Regions from separate parts of the Homo sapiens genome. Here regions 2, 3, 4 and 5 are each reported to be linked to region 1. The links are microRNA targets in miRTarBase. Many come from high-throughput screens and were not tested one by one. Region 1 holds a microRNA gene; each other region holds the end of a gene's coding sequence.

Region 1 (3,000 bases):
ACTTTAAATCAGTGCTAGATCAATTATACTACCTAATACAATCTAAATGCTATGTAGGTAGTTGTTACACTGTATTGTTTAGAGAACAATCACAGGACAAAAAAGCTCTGTTCATGTTCAGTACAGATGCAACCACCCATTTTTTCCCGAATATTTTTGATCCACTGTCGGCTGAATCCCCGCATGCAGAACCCAAGAAGACGGACAGCCAACAATATATTTTGACCCTCATGACAGGCTTGGAGGGTAGGCACTATTATTATTAGCCACGTTTTACAGAAGGGGAAACTGAGGCTTAGAGAGGTGAAGTGCTTTGTTGGAGATCACACAGATGATAAGTGGCTGAGTTTGATCTGGAACTCAGGTCTATCTGATGCCGGAACCCAAGCTCTTAACTACCTCTTCCAAATCTCGACCCCACCCCATACACAGATGGGGAAGCTATGTGCCCCAGGTCAGACAGCTGCTCAGAGTAGTGCCCGGCTCAGACTCCTGGACCATCTCCCAGTCTTGCCCCTGACACCTGGCACAGCCCCTGCTCAGGACTTCCTGCCCAGAAACACAGAGGGCCCCTGCCTGGTAAACAAGGCAAACAGGAAAGGGCCAGCGTGATCTTGTAGGGACCAGTGCTTCCTGAGCCCTCACCCCCACCCACCATGGGATCCCGTCTCTACTCCTCTGTCCAGAAGCTGTCAGAGGTAGGGGACTGAGCATAGGGGCAGGAATCCTCCACACCTGGCTGATTCCTAGCAATGCAGCCCTGGGTTGGGGGTCAGTGGGGAGGTGTTATCTAACTACTTTGTGCCTCACTTTCCTCATCTGTGAAATGGGGAGGCCATTAACACTTGTGAAGACTAAATAAATAAACTTGCAGTGGCTCATGCCTGTAATCCCAGCACTTTGGGAGGCCAAGGTGGGCGGATCACCTGGGGTCAGGAGTTCAAGACCAGCATGGCCAACATGGTGAAACCCCGTCTCTGCCAAAAATACAGAAATTAGCCAGGCGTGGTGGTGAATGCCTGTAATCCCAGCTACTTGGGAGGCTGAAGCACAAGAATTGCTTGAACCCAGGAGGAGGAGGTTGCAGTGAGCCAAGATGGCGCCACTGCACTCCAGCCTGGGTGACACAGCAAGACTCTGTCTCACAATAAATAAACTCACATAAAGCACTCAGAACAGAGCTTTGTTACTACCTGACTGTTATTCCTTCCCTTTAGGGTAGTGGTTAAACTTTGGTGTGCTTCTGAATAGCCCAAAACTTTAAAAGGCAGATTTCCTGGGGCCTGCCCTCAAATATTCTGATTTGGAAGAGGCAAGGTGGAGCTGAGGGAATTTGCATTTTAACGTGGAGCTGAGGGAATTTGCATTTTAACAAGCGCTGCCCCTTGCTCCCTCTCTGTGAAACACCGCTTAAGGCACTGAACTCAGCGTTCTAGTAGGCTGGTGCAAAAGTAATGCAGTTTTTGCCACTGAAAGTAATACCAAAGACCGCAATTACTTTTGCACCAGCTAACTATTCACTGGCTGCCCACCTGGGCCAGGCTCAGGAATGCAATCATCGTGGAGTGCAGGGGTCAGGAGTGTAGACCTAAAGTTGGACAGACCCAGGCGATCTTGGTGTGGCCACTCACCAGTGGCCTTGAGCCAGTGACTTCTTGTCTCTGAGCCTCACTCACCTGTTATAACGTTTAACATTTCCAAAATAAGTCTGAAAACGGCACCTACCTTGTGGAGCTGTTGTGAAGCTGGCAAAGAGTGTGAGCTCAGAGGCATCAGCTACAATTCTGTACCATTATTTATTAGGACGGACACAGTCCTGCCCATAATGAGTGTCACGGCCATTGAGCCGGCAGACAATCAACCCAGTGGGATGGATGCCCAGACAGACTGGGGTGTGCAGGAGGCGGTGGGAACACGTTCAGGGCACGCTGGAGCACCCAGTGTCACGTCCTGCCCAGAAGACCTAATAACACCCAACAGACAGGCACCACAACAAAGTGGCATCGACTCCCACTGCAGGCCTCCCACGGCAACCCTGTGGGGGAGACAGCCCCTCTCTGGCTGGATCATGAATAAGAAATCCAGAGGCGGAATGGGCTGCTCACACTCTGCTCACACTCACACAGCAGGTGCAGGGCAGCATGAGGACTCAAACCCAGGTCTAATGGGTTCTTCCACCATTTTGTGCCATGGATCTCTTCAACCATCTGGTGAAATCTATGGGCCCCTTCCCAGAATAATGCTTTTAAATGGAATACAATAAAATATACAGGATGAAAAGGAAACCAACATAGTAAACTTTGGCTAAGAATGTGATTACAAAAATTGCTGTGAAATATTATCTGTAACCTATCTGCTCCTTTATTAAAGCAATCAATAACAAGATCTAGTAGCAGACAGAATAATCACTGTCATCTGCAAGCAGACACATCTGTGGCACCTAAAATGTGATATAAAAATATGGGCCAGGAGCAGTGGCTCATGTCTATAATCCCAGCACCTTGGGAGGCCGAGGTGGGCGGATCACCTGAGGTCAGGAGTTCAAGACCAGCCTGGCCAACATGGTGAAACCCCGTCTCTACTAAAATACAAAAAAATTAGCCAGGCGTGGTGGCAGCCACCTGTAATCCCAGCTACTTGGGAGGCTGAAGCAGGTGAATCACTTGAATCTGGGAGGCAGAGGTTGCAGTGAGCCGAGATCGCGTCATTGCACCCTAGCCTGGGCGACAAGAGCGAAACTCCATCTCAAAAAAAAAGTGTGGTTTCTACTGGTGATGCGAGTGCTGCCACTACTACTGTGATTTATCACCTATGTTGTCACCTGGAGGAAATGTTAAACTAGGGTCAATAAAGATGTAATTTTCCCCTCATCCAAATTCCTAGGCCCCCGAATGCAGCCTGGAACCCCAATTAAGAATCGCTGCCAGCATCTGGCTCCGTTATGGACACAAAATCTATGGCTGTTAGGGCCAGGGAGCCATGGTCCTGCCTCAGGAGTCT
Region 2 (3,000 bases), not on the chromosome of region 1:
CCATGAGTTAAAAAATTATTTTTCCTGTTTTATTTCTGCATGAACCTAAGTCACATTGACCCAGTAATTGATATATGTGTGATTATTGCAATTAAGTATAAGAAGGTAGAATATATAGTTTTATTAGACAGATGCTTCTGAAATATTAATTTTGTATGTTTTTACTATATCCTTTTTGTGTATCTACAGATACAACAGACATGCAAGAGAATGGACTCAGAAATATGCAATGTAAAAATCAAAAACATTTTCATATATACCAGAGTACTGTAAAATCTAGGTTTTTTTCAACATTAGCAGTAAATTGAGCACTGTTTACTGTTTCATTGTACCATGAAACCATTTGATTTTTACCCATTTTAAATGTGTTTCTGAAGCAAGACAAAACAAACTTCCAAAAATACCCTTAAGACTGTGATGAGAGCATTTATCATTTTGTATGCATTGAGAAAGACATTTATTATGGTTTTTAAGATACTTGGACATCTGCATCTTCAGCTTACAAGATCTACAATGCAGCTGAAAAGCAACCAAATTATTTTTTGCTGAAACTAGATGTTTTTACATGAGAAATACTGTATGTGTTGTCTAAGATGTCAGTTTTATAAATCTGTATTCAGATTTCATTCTTTGTTAGCTCACTTTATAATTTGTATTTTTTTACTGTATAGACTAAATATATTCTATTTACATGTATGTCAACTCATTACTTTTTTCCTGTGAACAGTATTGAAAAACCCCAACGGCTGATAATTAAGTGAATTAACTGTGTCTCCCTTGTCTTAGGATATTCTGTAGATTGATTGCAGATTTCTTAAATCTGAAATGATCTTTACACTGTAATTCTCAGCATACTGATTATGGAGAAACACTTGTTTTGATTTTGTTATACTTGACTTAACTTTATTGCAATGTGAATTAATTGCACTGCTAAGTAGGAAGATGTGTAACTTTTATTTGTTGCTATTCACATTTGAATTTTTTCCTGTATAGGCAATATTATATTGACACCTTTTACAGATCTTACTGTAGCTTTTTCCATATAAATAAAATGCTTTTTCTACTATTTGTCTTGATTACTTAAAAAAATAAAAATATAAGTAAGGATCAAAACTCTAAAATTTTGCATGAAAATTACATCCAAATTGTGAAAATCAGATCTATTTTGTTTGCCATTAGTCACCATTAGTTATATAAATTTTATTGTTTTAGGTTAGTATCTCTTTACTAAATTGTCAGTCTATAAGATAATATATGTTGATCCCTTGCTGTAGAGGAGAATTTAGAGTAATTTGGGGTTTGTCTTGGATTATATCTAAATGGATTATTTGTTAAAAGTACTGAAATGAGTATAAGGCAGTATCACCCATCCAAAAGAAAGGTCTTTATAGACCTGCACAGTCACTAGATTAATTCATTAAAATGCCCCCACCCTGATGTAATTGACATTACATTTCTTAACATTTTAAAATCTAGAATTTCTAAAATGGAATTTAATGCCATCACAATTTGAAAAACTTTTTTTTTTTTTTTACTATAGAAGTTACAAAGGAAGTTCTAAAATTATGCCTCCCTCTGTTTTTATAAGTTGCCATCGAAAAGTGATTTAAATAAGCAGGTTATCTTTATAGATTTTAAAGAAAACTAGAAAGTTTTAATGTTTTAACTTGGGGAAAAATACATCTCTTTAATGTTTAGCATGCTTGTCAACCTTGAGTGAGTGTCATTTTTAAGAACAGTTGTAGCCCTTCTGATTATTGCAGTAGCTGTAGAAGTATGTAAGAATATGTGATGGGTGTAGTCATTAGCAAAGCATTTAAATCACTTGAGTATTTTGTCATGGTTCATTATTATTAAAGCACAAAATAACCTATTGTTAGAAAATATGTGTTTTTATAAATGAATGTAAAATAATTAAATGAATTGTGAAATGGATGTTTAAGAAAATATAGGCTTAAAAAGTAAATCTATAAAATGATGTCTTAAAACAGCCATATCATGAAAAATTCTACTTAGCTATATTATTATAAGCTACATTTGCCCTGAATTTGAACACTCAACATCACTAGATTTAAATATTTAGTATATTTTGATAGTAAAGGGTTTTGTTTCTTGAATATCTTCACTTTAAACAAAAAAAAAAAACAACTTTCATTTGTGTGGCATTTATTTTTGGAAGTGTCTTCTTTTTTTTCTTTATTAAAGTTTTTGAAACTTGCCTAACTTGTTTGCCTTTGCTTACATCTGGATTGTACTGGACTTGAGGAGTAAGCAGAAGTTCTCATAATTAGCTAAAAACCTTGAGTTCCATAGTGGCGTCATGATCGGTCAGAACACCATTTTGGGTATATTATTTTTGCTTAACTCTAACAAGGAGAACATCAGTTACCTTTTAAAACTGTAGAATAAAAGTCAGGGCCTTTTGTGGATTAAGCATTAATTTAAGGACTTCCTTGGAGTGAGAGAAATAGGTAGTCTTTTGGGGATTTAGGATCCCACTTCTTGAAGTTGCATAGTTGAAAACCATGTTCAAATTGGATTCTGAACGCTTATAACTGCCATATACAGCAGTTACCCACATCAGTGACATGGGTTGTAAGGGGCAGCCTCACCACCATCCTCCAACTATCTCAAAAGCGTACAATTCCTGAAGTACAAGCTTTACATATATGCCTCCGTCAACCTTATTTATTAATTTTTGCATTATTTCCCTGTTTCACCCCTTTTAAACGCTGATAGGGAAAATTAAAAATTATAAATGAACTGCATATCAAGGACAACTCTAAGAGTTAACGTTCAAAAGTTACTTTTCATAAGAAAAAAATAATACATTGCAGTTTTAAATTTTTCTTATTTATCACAGTGATCTATCTAATGATTCAGTCATTGATGTTTGTCAAGATCCTGCTCTCCCACAGTTCTGTATTTTTTAAATGGAGAGATTAAGGAAATTAATTTTCCTCCCAAATTAAAAGAAATTATTGGTCATGAAACTATATC
Region 3 (3,000 bases), not on the chromosome of region 1:
TCAACATTATGGTTGCTATAGACAAGCCTAGGTAGCTAGCCTCTATTTACATCATCCCACTAAGGGTATCCAAACCCAAGTAACCAAATTTTAGAACACTATCAGATAGTTTCCTGCATTCAAGACTTCAACTCATAACTCTTTGAACTCTTATTAGATATAAGGAATCTAAGATGTATTATAGGCATTCCTATAATTAGCCATATTTACAAGATACAAAATATTTGGATAAAAAGCAAATTTCATCACATCGTATAATGTACAGATAAGGTTTATAAAGTAAATTAATTTATTTTTAGCACCATATATACAATCCAAACACTGCAAATTAATTTCTTTTCAAACTCAAAAGATAGTTTTCATTAATCATGATGGCACATCCTCTCTCTCAATAAACGCAAATGCTGTTTTATGGGCTGTGTGGTAATAGTTTAACATTTAGTAATTGATTATATAAAATTATGTTCTCAAGACTAGGCTGCATTTCCTTTAAAAAAAAAACAAAACCTCAGGTTAAAAATTAGCCAAAAATTTGTGATTACTATCACAAATAATCCAAGATTTAAATAACCAAGGGCCTCCAGAGGCCCCTGTTCTTCCTTTTGCCCTGTCTAAAATCCAATGAAATATATTAAGTGTTAAACTGGTATGAAGAGGTGGAACTAAATTCTTTGAAACACAAGGTGGAGTATCACTTTTTACTTAAACTTTGAGTCCTTTACATTTATAACTGCTATTCAAAAAAAATTAGACAAAGACATCTAGATTTAGATTAACGTGATCAAAGGGATTATTGTGGATCATTAAAGGAAACTTAACATTAAGCCTTCATGTACCAAATACTAATATTTAAATTAATTTCAAAATCTATAAAGGTATGTAATTATTAATTTGCAAAGGAGAAAACTGAGGCTCAGAAGTTGCACAAAACCATGAACTAGTGGAACTGAGCTTTACAAACCAAGGCTGTCCTCTACTATACATTATTTCTCCTCAGTACACAATAATAAATTGGTTCAAAATTATCTAGACCTTTAAAAAGTATATAATGGAAAGTGCTTTTAGTATTAAAGTTTTCATGAATGACCCTAACAAATTTTGTCTAAAAGTTTACTAAAATGCTGACATCATTTATAATCCTTCATTTATTTGTAAAAAGATGAGGACACACATTAAGTGAAGTGCAATTCATTTTGTCTTCTACAAAATAAGTTAATTTTAAGCAAACCAATCTCAATGATGATAAATGCATGTCATTATTTATTTAGATGTTTCAGCTCTCGCACTAAGTTTTTACAAGCTGGTGAACACTGACAAAATTATTTCTCCCACAGAACTATAACCACACATCCCCAGACAGTATAAATATATGGTTGAACTAACATTAATACACATCACCATTTTATCAATTACATAATAAAACAAATTGTCAAGTATCCAAATATTAAGTTACACAGCTCAAAAGGCATATAAAATATTAGATGTCTGCTCAATTCATTAGCAGAAACCCATTTCTTTTTTTGCAAGAGAGGTTGGGAAGGAAAAAAAAAATCACACTTTCAAACAAAAATAAGTTGGTAAACACACTTCTGATAAGTATGGGAAAAAAATTACAAGAATTTCAGGAAGTTTATGATTACAATAACAAAGCATCTCTACCTTTTAAAAAAATATTTTACTAAATTAAAGAGCATATTCTACATGTTTGCACAAGACAAAGGCAACATTTTGCTAAAAATAATTAATAGCCCCCTCCCATTCTTTTCTCAGGCCCTCCCTGTTAAGTTGCACCTCAGAGTGCAAACATTAAATTAATGTAAGGCTTTTTTGTCTGAAGACATTAAAGACATGTGCTTCTGTACAACGTAGATTTTCAAAATGGAGGTTTTTTTAATACAGCACAAAGTGAGATACATGGAAACACGTAAAATAATCACTGTAAGACTTGGTAAAAAAAAAAAAAAATCAATGGTTAAGCAAACCTGACGTATATTGGTATGAATGTGGGAGATGTAAACATAAAGTGAGCAGGCAAATAACCATGTAGGCCCTACTTTCAATGTTTGAAATGATTGAAGGAATAAACCACATAAGGTCTAGTGTTCATAGTTCCTGGGATTTTACTTCTGTATGGTACTAAAAATATACAAGTATTGTGCTGGGTATTTTGGCACCTAATCTTCCTAAATTTCTTATGTATTGATAAGATTCTGGCATGGGAATAGATTTAACAAGTCATAACTCAATACTGCATGATTTGGGGAAAGGTCAATTGATACAAATGACAAGCACATTTTATATGCTGACAGCAAGAATCTTTTGCCAAGTATCCAAATAGGTTGACTGTAACCCAAATACAGAGGTTGCCAAATCTGTCTAGCTTGAGGCCTGGTAAAACTGCCTTTCAATACTCCTATGGAAGCTTCATTAGACTTACTAAGCCAACATGTTGGCTAATATGTATAACAAATTAGGCCCTATCTCAAGTTCCACTTCCAGTAGCATTAGGCACCCCAATTTTATTGAATGCAACAGTTGTTTCTATGACCGTTGGAATCTTTGAAACGCAGCCGCATTTTAGGACGATACTTCTCCAAATACAGAAGTTGCTTGCTGTTAAAAGCTCCACGCCGCTTTCTGGGAGGAAAAAAAAAAAAAAATGAAACAAGGCAAAAGCCCCCTACAGTAATATTTAGTGTCTTATAGACAACCATCACCTCTCTTGTGGCAATTTATCTTTTGATTAATTAGGCTGTGACCTGATGCAGAAAGGAATATGAACAGGCACATCAGTGTAAATGGAAAAAATCATAAAAAGTTAATTTTCTTTATATCTTCGTTTGAGTATTGGTTACAACAGTCGACTCACAAATCCATTTACACGTAAGTCCACGAAAAGACAAAACTAATTTATAGTGAAGTCAGAAGTTGCCTCTGGTAGCAGGGAAGATGACTACAAAAGCCACAAAGGCATGTTCTACAGCACTCAAAATATTCTAT
Region 4 (3,000 bases), not on the chromosome of region 1:
CTCAAGAACAATTCCACTGCTTATTCAACAAGGGGAAATAGAATAGAAATTTCTTACGAAAATTTACAGGTCACAAATATTACTAGAAAGGGAAGCATGTTACCAGTGAGCTGTAAGTTACCGAATATGGGTACTTCCCAGAGTTACCTTTCCTCATCTATGCCAGCTGGTTGTGTTTTGCCAGTAGGTGGTAATTTTGAGATCTTGTTACATTACTATCTTCTCAATTATGCCAAAAAATGCCATCAATCAGAAGAAACCATGGTTAGTATGATAATAGCTAATGCACTTTTAGGCATTCCCAAAGTCCTTTATAAATCTAAAACAGGAAAGTACAGCTTTCCACATACATATATAAGAGCTGTCCATGCACTGCAAACCAATCAACCCTTGGTAAGCAGTCAGACAGGTTTGGAATCAGTAATGGGTAAATACCAGCTACTAACTTCAGTTCTTCAGTGTTTGACAAAAATATTAACCATTGACATGGTAATCACTGTTAAGAGACACCCTCAGAAAGTTCACAATCAAGATTCAGAAGATGAACTATAACATCAGAAGTTTTTAATTAACCAAACTTTTCATCTAACTCAAGCCAAGTAAAGCAGTCATGTGACCACTGGTTCTAAAGTCAGTTCAGTCTACTTAGGAAAATAGCGTAACTTTAAAAGTCTTTAGAAGAAGCACACTAAGGTCACCAGACCAGATACAAATATTAAATTACTTTATGGAACAAATCTAGAGGGGAAGCCAAGATTTGGCTAAGTGTGTCTGTTTTTTCCCTATTTTATGCCTCTGTGTCTCAGCTCTGTGTTAGCCTATGTGTTTAGGGGAGGGTTTTTCTTTATAGCTCCTTTTTACTCTCCTGTATCTTTTTCACTCCAGCCCTCCTTCATCGTTACATGTTTAGTTCATAGAATCATTTAATCTCTGATTTGGGTGGGCTTATTCTAATTGTTTTTAATATTGAATACATTATTTGCATTAATTTTCCCTACTCATACTTTGTAAAGCTGAGTAAAAGGCTCAAATTATTTTTTTCAAAAAGCATAAAATTAAATTAGCAGTGAGTAAAAGGCTCAAATTTTTTTTCAAAAAGCATAAAATTAATTTTTACTTTTATGTGGTCATTGGTTTACTGCCACTTCATTTGGAAAACTTGGATAGATTTTCACCTTTGATATACCTTTGAATATATGTTACCTGAAATATAACTGTGCATTGTTAACTCTTTCATTTCTGTAGTAAAAGGTTAATACTAGAAAGGATATGCAATTAATACTTTGATTTTCTCCTGACCCCAAGAGCTTGTAAGGATATGTCATGTATTTACTGGTTTTTCTTGTATCTGGTGCATAGCCAGAGTTCCACAGTAACAAATAATTTGACAATTTTTATTTCTAATGTTTATTTCTGTTTTATTTTTAATTTTTATTTCTAATTTATTTCATTTACAAATGTTCATATTTTAAAAACTTGTCAATGTAAATAATATGATGCATCTTATCATGGACAAGGACAGTGTTTTCTACCTTTATCAGTTCTCTGTAATACCCAAAACAGTGCTGTATTTACTCCAAGTATTCAGAAGTGCTTGTTGAACAAAACAGTGTTATCTTTAATTCATTCCTTTAAATACATGTTTCCAGTTTACTTATTCAACAGATTCTTACTTGGGATTGACTGAAGAAAAAAAACTTTAATTATAGTTGAATAAGTGTTGACTAATGTATTTTAAAAACTATAATATCAAAATTTTTTATATTAAATGTAATTCTGATTTTTTAAACATTTATGCTATATGATGCATTATTTTGTTTCTGTGAATATGGAGAGAATAAATTAGCTCTTTTGCTGAATTCATGGATGAATGAACTTTAAAACTGCTGCATAATTTTTTTCATTTTTTTTTTAATTGCCTTTCAGGTCATTTGGTCACTTTGCTTTTTTTGTGGTTGTTTAAAACACTCCTCCATTACTGTAAGCATTTAATGACTTCCAGACATGCCCAGTGCTTTGCATATGATAAGCATTTAATAGGTATAGTCACTAGTCCAGGAGCCCTGTTGAGGTAGGACTGGGTCTTTGTACGTTTGGCACTTGGTCTAATATCTTACACACAATAGATGCCTATTGAGGGCCTATTTGTTGAATGAATCTGTCATTTGGTCCTCATAGATGAGATTATAATTTCTATAAACTTTCATGGGCAAAGGATCTATTTTGGGGAGGAGCAGAAAGTGTAGAACAGATCTACACAAAGTAATCCTTTTCCTTTTCATTAAAAGAAACCCCTCAAAAATGGTGGTAAAACTTTCATGGATTTATCCTTATTTACAGAATAACACTAGAGAGTTTACATCACTGAGTTAGATAGGAAAGCACTTTTAAAAATGTAATTACATTATACTTATACCCTCTACCACAAAGGATGTGAAGTGACCTGCAATAAGAACAGACCATCCCCACCCAAGAAAAGGAACAGACAAAATTACAGTAAAATCTGAATGAAAATTAAAGAATCAAGACCAAGGAAAATGTAAAGGCCAGTTAAAATCAAAATCAAGATCATGTTTCTATTTTTTACTGCTGCATAATGAATAATCCCAAAACTTAGTTTTTTTGAATCATTATGTTATTTACTTGTGGTTCTGGGGGTTGACTGGGCTTAACTGGACAACTTTCACTGCATTCTGTTGTTTGAGCAGTCATAAGCATCACCTGAGGTTCAAAGGAGAAGAATGCAGGCCCCACCACTCAATGGGAACAGTGTCAGTGTCACATCATAAGAGCATGTGGGATGGGATATATTGAGGCAGCTATCTTTGGAAAATACAATCTGCTACACCATGGGAGGGAAAAGACAAATACGCATTAACTTCTCAACTGCGTTTCTTTTTATTATTAAGTTACATGTCGATCCACCTCCCACAAACACATTTTCTCCAATAACCTTTATAGACCTTCTTATTTTTTCTCATTGGGCCAGCATGAGCCATT
Region 5 (3,217 bases), not on the chromosome of region 1:
CTCAAAATAACAGAGCTCCAGAGAAAGACAGTTAACTAAGAAAGAACAGTTTCACTTTCTTAGCTTGTCAACTCCTAGTTAGCCTGCTTGCCTCCGCACCACAGATGCTTGTCTTCTTGTGGTTGTTACCACAAGCCAAAGCTTGAATTTACATGGGCATCAGGCCAAGTCTGTAAATCCGTGAAGACAGGCCATCAACTGCATTGAGGGTACAGCCTTGCTGAAGGGTCCTTTCTTGACAGTCAATGATGATGAATCTGGAAAAACTGTCTATTCTCTTAGGAGAAGAAAATATACCCCACCTAAAGTCGCAGCTACCATTAACAAAAAAAAAAATTAGCAAAGGGAAAGAATCAATGGTAAGGACAGTAAATATACTCTGAGAATAGAGTAAGTACAATTTACACACGCTGGAGTAAATAGTGAAGCTTCTACTGAGTTCTACTGAGTCTAAGCTCTTTTATTTTTAAAATTCTGATAAAAATTTACTCAATTACATTTTATACATTAATATTTAGTGAATTTGTCCAAAAAGGCTATGTTTAATTTATGTGTAAAAATAACAAAAGATGTATCAGTCAGTCTCTGGGCAATAAGAAAGGAAGAAAGCCTTGCTAGAAATAATAAATAATCTCACGCAAAAGGCCAGGTGACATAAGAATACTACAATAATCAATATGTTTTCTTTGTATTTACAATAAAATCCATCTGTTAACACTGTGATAGAAAAAATAATCAGTCCACATCATGTAATAAAAACAGGCTTTGAGGATGATTATACCTCTTATAATAAAAACATACAAGGATTTCTCACAGCTAAAGTACTTTTCAACTTTGACAACTAATAACAGTCATGGGTGAAGGTAAAACTGACAGAGTACTTTAGATCAGCTATGTCCTACAGTCAAGGAATCAAGGGCATTACCCATTTACCAAGCAGCAAAAAGCACTTTCATTTTTCCAGAACTATTTAAATACAGTAGTTGCCATGTGATCAGTTAATTTTACTTTGTGAGTTAGATAAAGTAAAGACTAAATTGGGAAACTGCAATAAGTAATCAAAAGTAGCTCCAAACAACAAAGCCATCAATAGAAACAAAAGGCATTTTTCTAGGTGTATCATGCATAAAAAGAATAATTACATAATATTATTAAATATATTCCTTAATGACCAGATTAATAAATGAGGTAAAATTTAGTCATTGGAACAAATAAACTATATTTAATCACTTGTGTTTTGCTGTCACTGTTTAAAATAATTAACTTAATGTCTAAAAACTACATACTCTTGAATGTTTGCTTTTTAGAGCCCCTTGTGGGATATTAAAGAGCCATAACAAATTATCTGAATATAAATTATCAATACCAGGCTGGGCACAGTGGCTCATGCCTGTAATCCCAGCACTTTGGGAGGTGGAAGTGGGCATATAGCCTGAGGTCAGGAGTTCAAGACCAGCCCGGCCAACATGGTGAAACCCCGTCTCTACTAAAAACACAAAAATTAGCTGGGCACGGTGGCACACACCTGTAATCCCAGCTACTCAGGAGGCTGGGCCAGGAGAATCGCTTGAACCCAGGAGGCGGAGTTTGCAGTGAGCCGAGATCACACCACGCACTCCACTCCAGCCTGGGCAACAGCAAGACTCCGTCTCAAAAAAAAAAAAAATTATCAATACCAAATATGATACAGTTATGTAATACCCATTTTGCATATGCACAGTGGAAATACTGTAAAAACTACAAGATGAAAGAAAACCGACTGGCCAGAACTTTAAATTTCAGACTAATCCATGATAAAAATCTAGATGATAAAAAACAAAAATAAAATTAACAAAATAGATAACTTGATATCCTTTCCATATTCAGTCGTCTACTAACATGCCATCTCCAAACAAATCCATTACCTCAAAAGAGGAAGAAAATGGGCCAGGCGCGGTGGCTCACGCCTGTAATCCCAGCACTTTGGGAGGCCAAGGCGGGCAGATCACGAGGTCAGGAGATCGAGACCATCCTGGCTAACACGGTGAAACCCCGTCTCTACTAAAAATACAAAAAAATTAGCTGGGCATGGTGGCGGGCGCCTGTAGTCCCAGCTACTCAGGAGGCTGAGACAGGAGAATGGCGTGAACCCAGGAGGTGGAGCTTGCAGTGAGTGGAGATCGCGCCACTGCACTCCAGCCTGGGCGGCAGAGCTAGACTCCGTCTCAAAACAGAAAAAAAAAAAAAAAAAAAAAGAGGAAGAAAATGTAAATCTCTTTTTAAGTTTTCCAGTTTATGCTCTGAAAAAAGCCTAACATTAACAAAACCTGCAACACTACTTTAAAAAATCTAGAATTTAAAAATATCTATTTTAGTTATTAAAGATAAAAAATATTCAATTAAATTGAATGAATTAGCTGGATCAACAATTTCCTACCACACTACTATTATCTACAGCTACCCTTGGTATAATAATTTATAAGATGTCTAAGATGTCTACCTTAACTATTGATAGCACTTTTCACAGTATACCAATTTCCATTTTTACTTTCTTCTCCCCTTGTCACTTAAATGTATTACTTTAACTATCTGATAGGAAATTTTATTTTACAAATTCCTTGTTTAATTACTGAAGAGGTGATTTTAAAACATAAATGGATGCACCTGTTAATCCTGAGATGGTGATGACAGCAAAACTAAAAATCAGATGATTATTTTTACTCAAATTTCTGCTTTAGTTTTTTTTGGAAGATGGCTGGCAGAATAGAAAGAACAGCCAAGATCATCAGAATAAATATTGAGTTCCAGGAAACAGCTTCTCCTGCTGTTGTAAGTTGATACAGTGTTGTTCCTGCCTTAATGGCTACAAAAGAAGGAGGTGCGACACCTGAAATAAAATATAAAAAGATACAGTAAAAACCACCGCAATTGTTTTTAAAAAATTAAAATGTTCTGTGTGCATAAAGTTTCTTAAAACAACACAGCTATTTCCATTTTGGAAAAAAAATTAAGAATTTAAAGCTCAAGTTTATTTCCATATAAAGAATTCAATCTTTCCTAATCACCTCTTAAGGATAATGATTTTTTTTTTTTTTGAGACGGAGTTTCGCTCTTGTTGCCCCCGCTGGAACACGATGGCGCGATCTTGGCTCACTGCAACCTCCGCCTCCCGGGTTCAAACAATTCTCCTGCCTCAGCCTCCCGAGTAGCTGGGATTACAGGCATGTGCCACCACACC

What was found. Region 1 holds the annotated microRNA hsa-miR-548j-5p (AAAAGUAAUUGCGGUCUUUGGU, at 1,481-1,502, opposite strand). A microRNA usually pairs through its seed, bases 2 to 8, with sites in the 3' UTR of a target mRNA and lowers its output. Matches are read on the target gene's strand: a 7mer-m8 pairs with bases 2 to 8, a 7mer-A1 pairs with bases 2 to 7 and ends in A, and an 8mer does both.
Region 2: the mRNA of UBE2D1 is a reported target of hsa-miR-548j-5p. Seed matches in the 3' UTR shown: 7mer-m8 at 707-713.
Region 3: miRTarBase lists PTP4A1 as a target of hsa-miR-548j-5p. Seed matches in the 3' UTR shown: 8mer at 276-283.
Region 4: the mRNA of BBS10 is a reported target of hsa-miR-548j-5p. Seed matches in the 3' UTR shown: 8mer at 721-728 and 7mer-m8 at 1,114-1,120.
Region 5: miRTarBase lists TMEM41B as a target of hsa-miR-548j-5p. Seed matches in the 3' UTR shown: 8mer at 1,022-1,029 and 7mer-A1 at 818-824.

The regions. Positions count from the first base shown.
Region 1 is chr22:26,553,794-26,556,793 of GRCh38, forward strand. MIR548J (microRNA 548j) reads right to left here and starts at 1,530; the gene lies at 1,419-1,530. The region is part of intron 1 of TPST2 (tyrosylprotein sulfotransferase 2); the gene reads right to left. RefSeq lists an enhancer at 1,994-2,963.
Region 2 is chr10:58,368,531-58,371,530 of GRCh38, forward strand. UBE2D1 (ubiquitin conjugating enzyme E2 D1) reads left to right here. Exons shown (of 7, transcript NM_003338.5): 7 at 190-2,218. The coding sequence ends at 235. Among named protein-coding and RNA genes, the nearest start is that of TFAM, 15 kb to the right of the region's middle.
Region 3 is chr6:63,579,694-63,582,693 of GRCh38, reverse strand. PTP4A1 (protein tyrosine phosphatase 4A1) reads right to left here. Exons shown (of 6, transcript NM_003463.5): 6 at 1-2,637. The coding sequence ends at 2,520. LOC128125822 reads right to left here. Exons shown (of 2, transcript NM_001415059.2): 2 at 1-3,000. Among named protein-coding and RNA genes, the nearest start is that of PTP4A1, 8.7 kb to the right of the region's middle.
Region 4 is chr12:76,343,365-76,346,364 of GRCh38, reverse strand. BBS10 (Bardet-Biedl syndrome 10) reads left to right here. Exons shown (of 2, transcript NM_024685.4): 2 at 1-1,891. The coding sequence ends at 552. Among named protein-coding and RNA genes, the nearest start is that of BBS10, 3.6 kb to the left of the region's middle.
Region 5 is chr11:9,280,728-9,283,944 of GRCh38, forward strand. TMEM41B (transmembrane protein 41B) reads right to left here. Exons shown (of 7, transcript NM_015012.4): 7 at 1-2,866. The coding sequence ends at 2,697. Among named protein-coding and RNA genes, the nearest start is that of TRL-CAA5-1, 7.1 kb to the left of the region's middle.